Regions from separate parts of the Homo sapiens genome. Here region 1 is linked to region 2. The links come from fine-mapping of genetic effects on gene expression. Tissue or cell type: blood mononuclear cells. Region 2 holds a variant in brackets; the other region holds the start of a gene. All regions are shown on one strand. Distances are from middle to middle.

What was found. PIP is the estimated chance that this variant, and not a neighbour inherited with it, causes the effect.
Region 1: it holds the start of LPP, and the variant in region 2 is fine-mapped to the expression of LPP in blood mononuclear cells (TOPMed, PIP 0.92).

The regions. Positions count from the first base shown.
Region 1 is chr3:188,149,772-188,157,997 of GRCh38, reverse strand. It overlaps LPP (LIM domain containing preferred translocation partner in lipoma), which reads right to left and starts at 3,841. Exons shown (of 12, transcript NM_001375462.1): 1 at 3,746-3,841. LPP-AS2 (LPP antisense RNA 2) reads left to right here and starts at 3,910. Exons shown (of 1, transcript NR_036497.1): 1 at 3,910-6,792. RefSeq lists enhancers at 1,708-2,606, 4,406-5,306 and a silencer at 3,634-3,973.
Region 2 is chr3:188,625,317-188,633,542 of GRCh38, reverse strand. The region is part of intron 7 of LPP (LIM domain containing preferred translocation partner in lipoma); the gene reads right to left. The region is part of intron 2 of LOC124906316 (a long non-coding RNA gene); the gene reads left to right. Among named protein-coding and RNA genes, the nearest start is that of MIR28, 59 kb to the left of the region's middle. The variant A/C (reference allele first, on the strand shown) is at 4,238.

The DNA.
Region 1 (8,226 bases), 480 kb after region 2:
AAGTAAAGGCCCTCTTCTTTCTCCATTTTCCATGGTCCTCTTCATGGCTGGCCTTTCAAAACACAGCCTGGAGAATAAAGCAGCTTCTCCCTGCTTCTGCATCTGCTACTATCTTGCTAATAGGTCCTTCTCTCACCTGTCCTTCTTCCACCTGGACAACTCCTACTCATTCCTAGAGGTTCAGCTCAGACACCCCCCTCTCTATAGTGGTTTCCCTGAGGGTGAGCCTTCTCAGTGAAGAGCAGCCAAAACTTACCCTGTAAAAGCACTTAATACACGGACATGCCCCACTCCACCTTTTTCCCTCCCCCTCACACACACCACACACTTGTGTGCTCCTCAAAGGCAGGGACCATGTACACCTCATCTTTGTACGCTCAGGGCCAAGCCAGTTTCTGGTTCACCGTAAGCAGGCTCCAACCCCGGGTTTTACCTGCTACCTGCCATTTTCTATCTCCCTGTCTTTTTTCTGCTTAATGCAGCAAATATCTGTGCTAAGGGGGCTACACAGTTCTTATGAGTTACACTCTACCCGTGTACAAAATCCCCATCATCCAGCATCTTCAGCATAGTTCTGAAATCAAATCCGATCTAACTCTTGCCCCATTCCCAATTAACCCAGACTGGCTCAACAGCAGGGTAAAGTCACACGTCACCACCAAGAAGCAAAAGTTCTGGGTTGTAATTTTGAACACATCCCTAATTAGCTATATGACCTTGGGCAAGGGTTAAAATAAAGGTGACAGCAGCAGCAGGCCTCATTCTCAGGGGACCTTTGAGATTCAAATGGAGTATCTGATTGGAAAGTGTTTTATAAAGTGCAAAGCACTGTACATTCATAAACGACATGATGAACAATTTTATCAGATTTAAGCCATCAACTATAAGATGTGCCATTACCAACTTAGGATGAAAAACAACTGCACAACTATGGTACATTGTAATAAGACAACCACATTTCAGTGATATTAAAATGTGAAAAAAGTGTGTTTTACAATTGATTCGATACAACGTATTTGTCTCAATAAAATACAGGAATCTGCTATAAAATTTTCATATTTGCCAATGGTACGTAATAGGTATTCAGTAACCTATGTCGAGTAAATGAACAAGAACCAATTGATAATATTATTTTTCTTGGGGGGGTGGGGCGCAGCAGAGGAAATGGAGTCTCACTCTGTCACCCAGGCTAGAGTGCAATGGTGCAATCTCGGCTCACTGCAACCTCCTCTTCCCAGGTTCAAGTGATTCTCCTGCCGCAGCCTCCCAAGCAGCTGGTACTACTACAGGCACATGCCACCACACCCGGCTAATTTTTGTATTTTTAGTAGAGACGGGGTTTCACGATGTTGGCCAGGCTGTCTTAAACTCCTGACCTCAGGTGATCCACCTGCCTCGAGCCTCCCAAAGTGCTGGCATTACAGGCTTGAGCCATCGTGCCAAGCCAATAATATTCTTAGGCCAAATTATTACCTCTCTCATTGGAATTGGGCAGCAGGGGGCTTCTCGATGCCAGTACCTCCCCTCTAAATCATGTCTCAGCCTGCTCAAAACCCTCAAATGATGAATTTAAGATATATCCAAACTCCTTAGCCTGGCATTTTTAAGCCCCTTTATAACCAAGTTTCCTCTCCCGTCCATCATTTCCTGGAACTGTCTTCACCAGAATGTGTCACTCTAAGAAAGATCCTACTCAAGTCCCAGCCACAGCAATCAGCTCATCAGCTCAGCTTCTCCTCCCTCTGCGTACACTCAAAACCAACTCTAGACCCATGCTGCTTACAGAGAGCCTGCCTCTGGGGGGACTGCCAGACCCTAAGGCCCCAGGCTTTTACCCCTACCATTCAGAATAGGTAATCCCCTCTGGAGCCTACATTCTAGACTATAAAGTTTTGGGTGTTGGGGTTGGGGCCTGCATTGTAGAAATTAAATGCAAAAATGCACACTCTCCTTTGTTTGTTGTTGTTGTTTTTTGTTTTTTTTGAGAGGCAGTCTCCCTCTGTCGCCCAGGCTAGAGTGCAGTGGTGTGATCTCAACTCACTGCAACCTCTGCCTCCCGGGTTCAAGCGATTCTCCTGCCTCAGCCTCCCGAGTAGCTGGGACTACAGTTCCCCGCCACCACACCCAGCTAATTTTTTGTATTTTTAGTAGAGACAGGGTTTTGCCATGTTGCCCAGGCTGGTTTCTAACTCCTGAGCTCAGGCAATCCGCCCGCCTTGGCCTCCCAAAGTGCTGGGATTACAGGCGTGAGCCACCGTGCCTGGCCCACACACTTTTTCCTTTAACTGCCCCCTGGTGCTGGCAGGAACTGTGCAAGCAGAAAAACTGGTGACGAAGTGGAGAAAACCATATTGGATGTCCTAACCCCCCACTGTCCACCATTATTGACCATAGGCTCTAGGTCTAGCACCCACCTTCGTGGACCTTTACCTATTCTTCTATCTATAAGAGTTGAGGAAGGGGGAGGATGGGAGAGGGAGCTAGATGCTTTGTAAAGGTGCCTAGCCACACTTTCCCCTTCTTCACTTTAGGCTTTCTTAAAATGCACATGTGCAGGGAAAGGTAAGCCATTAAGTCATCAACACCTTAGTGAGAGTGAATTTTACAGGAAAGGCAAGAGATTTAGTAAAAGGGGAAGGAATGGAAAGAGAAAGGGGACTGGAAACACAGTTAAGTGAGTTTGGTACTAGCAAAAGCCCCAGAGAAGACCCTGAGTTCTCGCTAGTTGTTTTGTGTTGGGGGAGGGAAAGCAGTGGATCCCTTCTAAGGGAAGGGAAGCCAGAGAGATTTTTCAGTTCTCCTACGACTCCGAGGTTCCAAAGACTCTGCCCTGTCCAAGCACCCAGGCACAATTCCACTGATTAGCTCATCTCATATCACAACCTCCCCCATCCCCAACCCCTTGCCTCCAACTAAAGAATATTTATACTTTCATCTCCATTTCCCACACTACTTAGTCTTCTCTGGCCCACGGTTCCCTCGAAGAGATGTCTTCCTCCAAGCCGCTAGCTGGCTTCAGGAAACTCCTCAACCTCCAAAAACCCCATTCAGTGCAGGACTCTCCAAAAGGCCGTCCCAGGGACCAGAAAATCAAACCCCCTCCCTGGAACTTCCTTTAACTTTGTCCACGCCTTTGCTCCAGCACTTAGCATTTTCTACCCTAGGCCAGGTTTGACTCCCAGGTTCAACTGAGTTCCTTGAGGGCAACGTCCAATACACCCAGCACAGGGTCTGCCACACACAGGGTGCTAGAGAAATGCTTAGAGAAAGGGAACTTAAGTCCGGAGCCAACTATTTGAATTATGGTCTGGCCTCTAGTAAATAACTTCCGGGCGACCCTCCTTCTCTCTGGGCCTCAGCTGCCCCAACTGTAAAATGGGAGGACTTGGAGGACTGGGTCTAGGCCCTTTCCGCTGTGACAACTGTGATTCCGCGAAAGCTCTAAGCGGATGGGCGTGGCCCCGCCCCCTGGGCGCCCAGAAAAGTCCGGGCAGGGGGCGCGCAAGGCTCCAACCCCGCCTAGCCTGGGGTCGACGCTTTTGGAAAAACTCTGGGTCCCCCTCCCCCATGGCGTGCACCCCGTGATTGGGCCGCGGCCGGCACTTCCGCACAGCGGGCCAGGCCAGAGCAGGGCGCGCGCCCTGCGCTCTTGCCACCCCGGAGGCGCTCGCGCCGGGGGAGGGCTGGGGGTTCCCGAGGCGCCCGCGGGTGGAGGGTGAGGGGAAGGAAGGATTTGCAACAATACCTCAGGGAGGAGGCAGCCGGGGCAGCGGCGGTGGTGGTGGCGGCGGCGGCGGCGGCGGCGGCGGCTGGAGGCGGAGGCAGAGGCAGAGGAGGAGGTGCCCGGGCACTCCCCCTCCCATTGTCCCCAGCCCCGGACAGGCCCGGCCCCGCGCCCCACACTGGCCTCCTCGAGCGCGCCGCCCGCGCCCAGCGCCCCACGCCCCGCGCCCCGGGCCGTGCAGCCAGCCCTTACCTTGCAGCGCCCGGCTGTCTCCCGATCGCTAAAGCTACTTATCCCGGGAAAGCTCGCGCGGGACCCGGGAACGAACCCACAGACAAAAAGTGAAACTTCGGCAGGGCTGGAGCGGCTGCTGGTTGGTGCCTTTCCCCCTCCTTCCTCCCCACCGTCCCCACCCCCTCCCCTTGGTCTCCCGTGCGGTGCCCTGAGCGCTGGAGGCTGACGTCAGGGGCCTGAATTCCTGACTTTGCCTGCACGCATTTGTCCATGTAAGGTATGGGAAGGCGTGTGCCCGCGAAGCCGCCGCGCAGAGCTCGCCTGGCGGGGGAGGGGAAACCCGCAGCCGGCAGTGGCTTTGCCAAAAGGTGGGCGCACTGAGGGCATTGCATTTCCTGGGAGGAAGAGGAGGAGACGCGGGAATGCAGGGAGCTTGCAAAGGAGGAAGAGAAAGAGGGAGATGTGGAGACTTTGCCCCTGCTAGAGGAAGAGGAAGGAGACGTAGGAGGAAGCGGCCGCGTCAGGGGGCTCCTGGAAAATGGAAAAGCCTGCGTCTACTATTAAGGCGTCAAATTAGGGCACTGAGCTTGAGTGGAAGAGATCCAGCCATGAAATCCCCTTCCAAGATTTTCCTCGTGAGCCCCGCCCTGGATTCCCAGCAAGACTCAAAACTTACAAGGTGTCAGAGCTGGCAAAGACCAACTTCCAACCCGTCCGCTTGGCACGTGAGGAAACTGAAGCTCTCGGAAGAGAAATGACTTGTACAGGGTCGTCACTCAGCAGATCGAGGAGCGGGCCCAGGCGCTCTGCCTCCCACTTGGGTTCCCGCCTCCAGGAAGGGCCCTGGCTCCCTTTTAGCCCTGAGCCTTGAAGCAGGTTAGATGCCCGCGAGCTGTGCGGACCACCCAGTGATTTCTACTGCTCTTGGCCCAGAGCCAGTTCCTGGAAGGTCCTGGTTGACAGCGAGCCCTGAATATCAATGACAATCAGTTGCTTCAGGGCAACTTCCTCTGTCCTGTGCTCAAATAAATGAATCCCTGGAGTTTAACGTTTACTTCTGAGCCCCGCCCAGAAAGCTTGCTCTGTGCTTATAGCTTCAAAAAAGTCTGCGAACGAGATGAACTGGTTTGAATACAGACAAGCCTGTCATTGGAAGTTTTGAGTTGGATTTTTCTTTCCCCTCTGACATCTGTAAGGGTGAACGACGATGAGAACCACCACTTAACTGTGTTAGGGGATTATGACGCGCAGCAGCCATGGCCAGGAAAGCATTCCATACCCTGAGACTTCCTTTCCTTGCACTTCTCTCCTATTAATATCTAAAGTAATCCCTCACGTTAGCACATAATGAAAGCAGTCTCTCACCCGGCTATTGCATCTTCAGGTGAGTTAGATAGGACAGAGCGTAGTCCCCCCTTTACACCTCAGACAAAAACTTAAGAAACGTTACTCGCCCAACACAAAACAACTGACTGACCAAGCACCTGTCTTCCCCTCCTCCCATCCAGGTCTCCTGACTAATCCCTTCATCTTTCCATACCTGGCCCTGACCTCTAGCAGGACCTAATTCCATTCATAACTGTTGAGAGTACACCATGAGCTACTGATTCATAAAAACTCCAAAAAGTGGTTCTTCTGAGGATGGACTTTAGTGGGATTCTTTTGACCAGGAATTAAGGAAATAATGTAAAAACACATGTTATTGGATTTATTAAGCACCTTCCTTGTGCTTAATAAGTGTTTGAATTCAGACATTTCAGGGGTAAGACTACTTAACCTCTGTGTTCCTCTCAACTATCTAATGTACACATACAAAAATATGAACATGGCTGGGCGCGGTGGCTTACACCTGTAATTCCAGCACTTTGGGACGCCGAGGCGGGCAAATCACCTGAGGTCAGGAGCTCGAGCCAGCCTGGCCAACATGGCAAAACCCCATCTCTACCAAAAATACAAAAAACTAGCTGGGCGTGGCGGCGAGCGCCTGTAATCCCAGGTATTCCGGAAGCTGAGGCAGGAGAATTGCCTGAACCCGGGAGGCAAAGGTTTTAGTGAGCCGAGATTGCGCCACTGCACTCCAGCCTGGGGGACAGAGCAAGACTGTTGTCAAAAAAAAAAAATATATATATATACAAACACATATATATACACATATATATACATATATACACATATATATACATATATATACACATATATATACATATATATATACACACACACATATATATATACACACATACATATATATATATGAAGGCAGTAACAGAGAGATAAGGTCGAGAATAACCACCCATTCCACAGACTAATAAAGAATTTATCTCTTTGCAACTAACATAGTTTGAAATGGGAGATACGGGCTCTTGGAGAGAGTTTTTTCTGGGGTTCTGAAAAGGTCAGATCCTATCAAAACACAATCCACTCACTCAAACATTTCAGCGTACTCACATTCTGAGTACTACTGTTTAGTATGAAAAGAATTCCAGTGTTACATGAAGTAAAAATGGATTATCTCAATCCTCATGGAATATAACGGGACTTGACCAGCATTTCCTTTTTTTTTTTCCTTCAGTAACTCACTTATAAGGAATAATAGGGTCCTAATGAGGATTAAGATTTAATAAGGTGTAATTAGAGTTGTTCATTTCTTCCATCATATACATTATAAGAGTACTGTGCCGGATCCAGAAATGCTACTAATTATGTTGAAACTGTTGTATGGGTGTGTTGGGGAAGTCACTGTGTTTCTCCTCCTGAAATGTTTATGAATTGCTCAGGTGAGCATGGTGAGCATGGTGTTAGCATGAACATCATATAAAGTTAACTACAAAAGATAATTCTGACTCATGAGGAACTTCCCAAGAGTACAACCACCCAAGTCATAATCTGGATGCTTAGTGAACTGCATACAGTGTTGTCGTCAGTGCTAACCCTACCAAAAGCCTCATTCCCATTTACTGTTCTGGTTTCTTTCGTACTCTTACTTTTCTCAACCTCCTGTTACAACTTTCTACGTGCAGGCGCTTGCGTGAAATGGAAAGGTTGTATGAATTTGCACTCAGTGGTAGAAAAATACTGGTTTACCAATTCAGAGGCTAAAACACAGAATTTCAGGTGTAGTGTGGGGTCGTTTGGGCCAAGGATAGCACACTGGTGGCCTAAAGGCTACCAGCAGCATTTTCATGGGTTCAGTAATGGCATAAAAGACTTTTAGGCAAGCTGGGCTTGGGTCCTGCCTTTCGTTTGCATCCATTACAGTCCTGTACACGTGGCCTTTGTGTAGCTCATGCCAGTCCTTATTTGGAGTTTTCATATACATTTCACTTAACTCTCACAAGACCCCTTCTGAGGTTGGCATTATTATTTTTTTATTTTATCCATGAAGAAACTAAAGCCCTAAAGCCCAGGGAGTTTAAGTACTAGCTCTGTGTTAAGAGCTGAGTAAGCTCATTTTTTTTTTTTTTTTTCTTTTTTTGAGGTGGAGTCTTGCTCTGTCGCCCAGGCTGGAGTGCAGTGACGTGATCTCTGCTCACTTCAAGCTCCACCTCCTGGGTTCACACCATTCTCCTGCCTCAGCCTCCTGAGTAGCTGGGACTACAGGCATTCGCCACCACGCCCGGCTAATTTTTTTTTTTTTTTTTTTTGTATTTTTAGTAGAGACGGGGGTTTCACCAGGTTAGCCAGGATGGTTCGATCTCCTGACCACGTGATCTGCCCTCCTCGGCCTCCCAAAGTGCTGGGATTACAGGCATGAGCCACTGCACCCGGCCCCAAGCTGAGTAAGCTCTTACTCAGCTGAGGGTAGGTAAGCTAAGATTCCACACTGATCCCTGGCAACCTGGCACCTTGCTCACCCACTGTTGAGTGACCATCTGCTCTCAGTTTGAACACTCAAGCGTAGGGAACTTATGATCTCCTACAGCTGAGCAAGAGGAAAAGTTCTGAAGAGGCTATTAGAAAAATAATAAGAATAAGAGGGCCATGGGTGATAGAAGGTAAATACCCATCTGCTGTTGCCTCTGAGAGCCTAAAACCTATCAGGCCAAATGCCTCTAGTATGGTTTGCACGGACCTTCATAATTTGGCACCTACTTGTCCCTTCAGCCTCATTTCTTCCAGGCCTTTATGTGCCCCCACCCTCCACCCTCCTTCTAGTAGTTTTCCAAGCACATCTTACCTCTCCCTGCTTATCTCTGTTTGCATATCTTCCCTTTTCCCTCGGGAGTCCTCAGCCTTCTCTTTCAGATAACTTCAAGTGACGGGGCCTG
Region 2 (8,226 bases):
TGTAGACAGAGGACCAGGTTTTGTATAGTCTTTCTTATTGTTACTCCAAAGAATGTAGTTCACAGCCATTCTCATCGAGAGGTGTGCTAATACTGCTCACAGGAATGCTGTCTGCCACCAGTAAGCCTTACAATACCAGTTATGTAAGTAACTGGTTATTAATGCTTTTGCTTCTCAAATTACAGCAAGAAGAGTGATAGAAGCTTTGACAAAACAACACAACAGCATTTACATGGTCTGTGTAAAGAACTGTGTCTTAGCAGTGACGTGGGAGGTGACCCGGGTGGGTTCTGTTTAGACTGGTTGATGCCTGTGTGCTACCAGCATATGTGGTGAATTTTACTACACAGTTCCCTGTTCTCAAGTACTCATAGCCCAGTATGATAGTGACAACATATCTTGTTCAAGATTGAAGTAATCAACACATCTATATGACTTGGAAGAATCATTCAAAGACTGAACACTCAGATATCCCTACTGGTTCTGTCACTAGGTCACACTGGGTGATGGCTGGCCAACAACTTTCCTCAGATTGCATAAATAAGATAGTATGTTAGACTTTTCTCCCTCTGGGTCAAGGAAAGTTCAGAAAGAAGGCCATGCTTCTATGTCGTCTATGAGAGAGAGAAGAGCCACCAGAATAAACAAATAAGCAGGAAATGGGGGATGAGAAAAAAGATAATGAAAACGAACGTGGGGTAGAGTTGAGGGCTAGCAAGAGAGAAATGGAGGAAGACAAAAGGGGCGCTACAGAAGAACTACCAAATACAACTGAAGAATACCTTCCACTTGTCCGTAAGTGTTAGTATTGAAACGTAGAGTCTTAGTGAAAACAGTTAACGTAAGCCCTTTTCTGGTGACTTGGATAAAGCTTAATTCTTTCAGATGTTGTCACAGAAACAGCTTAAGGGGTTCCAGAACAGAAATGTGACTGGATGTTCTCAGCTTCAGCTGAGAGAGGACATTCTCCAAAGGAACTGAGGTGGCCACAAAACCAGAGTTTCTTTTAGTACATTTGCTTTGCCATTACCCAGGCCAAGTAACCAAAAAACTTTAACTGTTACAGATAGAGAATACATGTGATAGAAGTCCCACCATGTGCAGCACCAGCACACTGGAATGCCTTTCCATCTCCCAGTCTCCCCACCCAGGCCCTATCCTACCGGTCCTATAGGTTAGATCAAATGCTACTTCCTCATAAAGGTTTTCCTGAACATTCAGCTGAAGGTGGCCTTTAAATCACCAGGATAGCTAGTAGATTTTATTTGTAACCACTTAGGTTACCCATTACTTTCTATGCAGTGCTGTAGACATCAGCATATGTATCTTATTCTTCAACATGGGGTCTAGAATATAGTATACACTAAATAAATGTTTGAGGAAAAGACAGAGGTAAGGAGAGAGGGAGGGAAAAAAGGAAAGGAATAACTATTTCTGAGGAAGTATCCAGAGTAAAATAAATACTTTTAAATAAACATGCTTTGACGAGGAAGGAAATGAAGCTTCAGGGGCCCTCATGTACACTGGCCCCTACTAAGGTCTTGGGAGGGGACCAAGCTGTATGTTCACTATGGTTCTTCTACTCTGTCTTCTGTGTACGCTCATGTAGGGAAATGTTAGAATCAACATGTGACCTTTGAGATTGGTTAAGAAAGGTTGAGTCAGGGAGACATTTAGCTGAGTGTCATGGGATATATTTACATGGTCTGCAGTCACTATGGTGTGTGCTTAAGTCATCACCCATCGTCATTGTATAGGAATGAGTTCCTGGAATGCTTCAATGTGCCTGGGCCCATTACTGTCCTAGCTCTGTGACACAGATTTGTGGGACCAGAAGTCACGTGTCATTAATGTGTCCTATAACACCCAGCATGGAAATTAGACTAGTAGAGGAGACAAACAGGAGTAAAATGCATAGAGACAGAAATTGAGTCTGCTGGAAATTCAACCAATAGTCAGATGTGTAAAAGTATACATGTGGAGTACTACTTGGTTTTCGATGATGCAAATGGAGATACTTTCTCTTTAGGAATGTGCTTAGTAATGCACTGAACACAATTATAAATGCACGGCTGACTTGATTTTTCTTTTTGATGCTAATTGCACAAAATAGAACTCATCAGCTATGAATCTGCAGTAAGAGTAAGGGTGTTGTAATAGCTCACAAATAAAAGAAACTTAATAGGAGTGTCCCCAAATTTGATTATCTTAAATTTCAAACAACAATACTAATAAAAGTTGTGCAGATTAAAGGCAGTTTTCCAAACTTTTAAAAACTATAATAATAAAAAATGTTTATCACTCAGGCTAGAAGAAAGATAATTTTTTTTCTAAGTATAAACATTATTTTCTTTCTTTTTCAACTTTTATTTTTGTTTCAGGGGATACATGTGCAGGTTTGTTACATCAGTAAGTTGTGTGTCCCAGGGGTTTGGTGTACAAACTATTTCATCACCCAGGTAGTGATCACAGTACCCAATAGATAGTTTTTCGACCCTCACCCTTCTCCTAGCCTCTACACCAAGTATGTCCTAGTGTCTATTGTTCCCCTCTTGGTGACCATGTGTATTCAGTGTTTAGCTCCCACTTACAAGTGAAAACATGTGGTATTTGGTTTTCCGTTCATGTTAGTTTGCTAAGAATAATGGCCTCCAGCTCCATCCATGTCCCTGCAAAGGACATGATCTCGCTCTTTTCATGGCTGCACAGTATTCCATGGTGCATACATACCATATTTTCTTTACCCAGTCTATTATTGATGGGCATTTAGGTTGATCCCAGGTCTTTGCTATTTTGAATAGTGCTGCAATGAACATACAAGTGCATTTGTCTTTTCATTAGGTTTCTGCCATTACTTTTAATGGCAGAAACCACAATTACTTTTGCACCAACTTAATAGAACAATTTATATTCCTTTAGGTATATACCCAGTAATGGGATTGCTAGGTCAAATGGTAGTTCTAGTTTACATTCTTTGAGAAATCCCTGAACTGCTTTCCACAGTGAGACTGAACTAATTTACATTCCCAACAGGAGTGCACAAGCATTCCCTTTTCACCACAACCTTGCCAACATCTATTAATTTTGACTTTTTAATAATAGCCATTCTGAGTGGTGTCAGAAGGAATCTCATTGTGTTTTTGATTTGCATTTGTCTAATGATTACTGATGTTGAGCATTTTTTCATATGCTTGTTGGTTAATTGCACATCTTTTAGAAATGTCTGTTCATGTCCTTTGCCCATTTTTAAATGGGGATGCTTTTTGCTTGCTGATTTGTTTGAGTTCCATATAGATTCTCAATATCAGACTTCTGTCAGATGCATAGTTTGCAAATATTTTCTCTCTTTCTATAGGCTGTCTGTTTACTCTGTTGATAGTTTGTTTTGCTGTGCTGCAGAAGCTCTTTAATTAGGTCTCACTTGTCAATTTTTGTTTTTGTTGCAATTGCTTTCGGAGACCTCATATGAAATTTTTGCCAAGGCCTAGAATAGTATTTCTAGAATATAATTTCCTAGGTTTTCTTCTAAGATTTTTATAGATTTAGGTCTTACGTTTAAGTCTTTTAATCCATCTTGAGTTGACAAATGTTGACTATCAATGGTTGTAGGTGTGCAGCATGATTACTAGGTTTCTCTAGCTTCTTTCATTGGTTTATGTGTCTGTTTTTGTCCCAGTACCATGAAGTTTTAGTTACTGCAGTCTTGCAGTTTAATTTGAAGTCAGGTACTGTGATGACTCTGGCTTTGTCCTTTCTGCTTAGCATTGTTTTGCCTATTTGGGCTCTTTGTGGTTCCATATGAATTTTACAATATTTTTTTTTTCTAATTCTGTGAAAGATAATATTGGTAGTTTGACAGGAATATCACTGAATCTATAAATTGCTTCGGCCAGTATGACTGCCCCAAATTTTAACAATATTGATTTTTTTCCTATCTATGAACATGAAATGATTTTCCATATATTTGTTTCATCTCTGATTTATTTCAGCTGTGTTTTATAATTCTCATTATAGAGATCTTTCACCTCCCTGGTTAGCTGTATTCCTAGGTATCTTATTCTTTCTGTGGCTACTGTGAATGGGATTGTGTTCCTGATTTGGGTCTCAGTTTGGACATTATTGGTATATAGAAAGGCAACTGATTTTTGTGCACTGATTTTCTGTCTAGAACTTTGCTGAAGTTGTTTATCAGATCAAGGAGCTTTTAGGCAGAGTCTATGGGGTTTTCTAGGTATAC[A/C]ATGACATCATCTGCAAACAGAAATAGTTTGACTTTCTCTCTTTCTATTTGGAGCTCTAGAATTTCCAGTACTATGTTGAATAGGAGTGGTGGAAGTGGGCATCCTTGTCTTGTTCCAGTTCTCAAGGGGAGTGCTTCCAGCTTTTCCTGTTCAGTATGATGCAGGCTGAGGGTTTGACATAGATGGTTCTTATTATTTTGAAGTATGTTCCTTCAATTTCAAGTTGTTGAGGGTTTTTAACATGAAGCGATGTTGAATTTTACCAAAACCCTTTTTTGCATCTGTTGAGATGACCATGTGGTTTTTTGTCTTTAGTTCTTTTATGTGATGAATCACATTCATTGATTTGTGTATGGTGAACCAATTTTGCAACCTATGGCTAAAGCCTATTTGATTGGGTTGAATTAGCTCTTTGATGTGCTGCTGGATTCAATTTGCTAGTATTTTGTTGAAGATTTTTGTGTCTATGTTCATCAAGGATATTGGCCTGAAGTTTTCACTTTTGGTTGTTCTATCTCTGTCAGGTTTTGGTATCAGAATGATGCTGGCGTTATAGAATGATTGAGGGAGGAGTCCCTCCTCCTCGATTTTTGGAAGCTATTTAGTACGATTGGTACCAGCAAGTCTTATTACATCTGGTAGAATTCAGCTGGGAATCCATCTGGTCTATCCAGAACTTTTACTGGTTGGTAGGTTTTTTATAACTGATTCAATTTTGGAACTCATTATTGGTCTATTCAGGATTTTAATGTCTTCCTGCTTCAATCTTGTGAGGTTTTATGTTTCCAGGAATTTATTCATTTCTTCTAGGTTTTCTAATGTATGTCTGCAGTGCTGTTCATAAGAGTCGCTGAGGGTTTTTTGTATTGCTGTGGGGTTGGTGGTAATGTACCCTTTGTCATTTCAGAGTGTGTTTATTTGGTTCTCTTTGTTTGTTCTTTATTAATCTAGCTAGTAGTCTGACAATCTTATTTATTCTTGCAAAAAAAAACAGCTTTTGGTTTTAGTGATCTTTTGTATGGTTTTCATATCAGAATTTTGTTCAGTTCAGCTCTGATTTTAACTATTTATTTTCTTCTATCAACTTTGGAATTAGTTTGGTCTTGTTTTTCTAGTTCCTCTAGGTGTGATGTTAGGTTGTTGAGATTTTTCTAACTTACAGATGTAGGTGTTTGTCTCTACAAACATTTTTCTTAATACTGCTTTAGCTGTGTTCTCTGGTATGTTGTATCTGTTTTCATTAGTTTCAAAGGATTTTTTTTATTTCTGCCTTAATTTCATTCTTTACTCAAAAGTCATTCAGGAACAAGTTGTTTAATTTCCATGTAATTGCATGGTTTTGAGAGATCTTAGTATTGATTTATATTTTTATTGCACTGTGGTCTGAGAATGTGGTTGGTATGATGTCAGTTATTTTGAATTCTTTGAGAATTGCTTTATGAATGGGTGTGTAGTCAATCTTAGAGTATGTGTCATGTGCAGATGAGAAGAATGTTTATTCTGTTGTTGTTGGGTGAAATATTCTGTAGATGTCTCATAGGTCCATTTGGTCAAGTGTTGGGTCCCAAATATCTTTGTTGGTTTTCTGCTTTAGTGATCTCTCTAGAAATGTCAGTGGAGTGTTCAAGTCTCCCACTATTGTAGTTCTCTAATAACCTGTTTTATAAATCTGGGTGCTCCCTTATTGGGTGCATACATACTTAGAACTGTTAAGTCTTCTTGTTGAATTGAACCCTTTATCATTATGTAATGCCCTTTTTTTGTCCTTTTGAATCATTGTTGGTTTACAGTCTGTTTTTTCTGAAATAGAATAGCAACCTCTGCTTTATTTTGTTTTCCATTTGCTTGATAGAGCTTTCTCCATCCCTTTATTCTGAGCCTAAAGGTGTCACTGCATGTGAGATGGGACTCTGGAAAACAGCATAGAGTTGGGCCTTGCTCCTTCATCCAATTTGACACTCGGTGTCCTTTAAGTGGGGCATTTAGCCCACATAAATTCAAGATTAATACTGATATATAAGCATTTGATCTTGCCATCATGTTGTTACCTGGTTCTTATGTAGACTTGATAGTATAGTTGCTTTATAGTGTTAGCAGGCTATGTACTTAAAGGTGTCCTTGTAGAAGTAGGTAACAGTCTTTCATGCTTATCATTCCCTTAAGGACCTGTTGTAAGGCAGGACTGGTAGTAATAAACTCTCAGCATGAAATTATCTTTGTATTCTCTCTGCAGAAAATATTATGAAATTAGGTTGTACAGTTAGTTAATCAATGAATATGCTGCTAAAAATGTAAGAAAAAGTAATCAGGAATTTAATTCATAAGAGTGTTATTTTTCAAGATTTTTGTGATTTTTGAGGTATTTCATAGCTTTTATTAATGTGATTTTTGAGGTATTTCATAGCTTTTATTAATTTATAACATGTTGCATTTCCTCTGTCATTTAAAATAAATGTTCATTTGCCTACATAATTGTTATGAGCTGAGTCATGTCTCCCTTCAAATTAATATGTTGAAGTCCTAACCCCTAGTATATCAGATTGTGACTGTATTTGGAGAAAGGGCCTTTAAAGAGGCCATTAAGTTAAAATGAGAGCACTAGGGTGGACCTTAATCCAATACGACTGGAGTTGTCCTTATAAAAAGAGGGACTAGGACACAGAGAAGCAGAGGAAAGACCATGTGAGGACACAGAGAGAAGGTGGCCATTTTTATCCAAGGAGAAAGCTCTTAGAGGAAAGCAACCTTGTGAGTACCTTGATCTCAGACTTCTAGCCTCTAGAATTGTGAGGAAAAAAAAATCTGTAGTTTATGTCACTCAGTTTGTGGTACAGTTGTCCCTTCATATCTGCAGGGGATCAGTTCTAGGACTCCATGCAGATGCCAAACTCTATGGATGCTCAAATCCCTTATATATATGATATGCTATACACGTAACCTACACATATCCTCTTACATAGTTTAAATCATCTCTAGATTAGTTAAAATACCCAATACAATGTAAATGCTAGGTAAATACTTGTTATATTGTATTTTGAAATTTGTAGTATTTTCTAATATTTTATTGTTACTTGTTATTTTTTACAAACACTTTCCATTGGCAGTTGGTTGAATTCTGAATGCAGCCTACTTGAATATGAAGGCCTGACTGTATTTTGTTATAGCAGTCCTACCGAAATAATATAATACTTTTATGCATACAGAAGTTATTTCCACAGTGATAAGCTTCAAAGCTTCAGGTTTCATAAAATGTGAATATATCTTAACACACACACACACATACTTATAAATTAATCTCACTGCTCATTATTGAGAGTATTAACTAAAATAGGTAAGGCCCATTCGGTTTGTTAGAAATCCTTTATTTTTGCACATACATTTTTACAAATGCTTTCCATTTAACAGCCATTTACATCATAACTACCAAATGGTTAACAGACTTGAATCATTTAATCACAACATTTATTTGGCTTCTGAAATATGTGCAACCTTATCATCTATGGAGTCACTGTCTGCAGACACTTCTTGGATGGAATACTAAGTAATACCTAAATATTAGTCCAGGTCTCTTATTCAGTTTCCTGTTTAATGAATTTCATGTTTATCAATCTAAATGTTAAGCAACTGGAAATGGGCATTCTATAGGCAGAAAAGTTGGAAACTATGATTTCAAGTTCCACATATTTCATATTGTTGATTCTGTATATAAGGGACAAAGATTCAATGATCTATATAGTATGAAAAATTGGAAAACTGACTTGCCTTCTCCGAAATGTTTCATCATCTGTAAAAGAGGATGAATATGCATTATCTCATCATCTCAGTGAGTTCTTTTTTGAGGACCAAATTCACAATGGTTATAAAAATGTGTCCCATTAAAATGGTTTTACTGTTATTTTATCAAAGACAGTGATAAAGTATATATCAATGTATTATCTTAAATATCCCAATACCAGAGGTTTTATGGATTTTTGTTAAAGTCCTAATT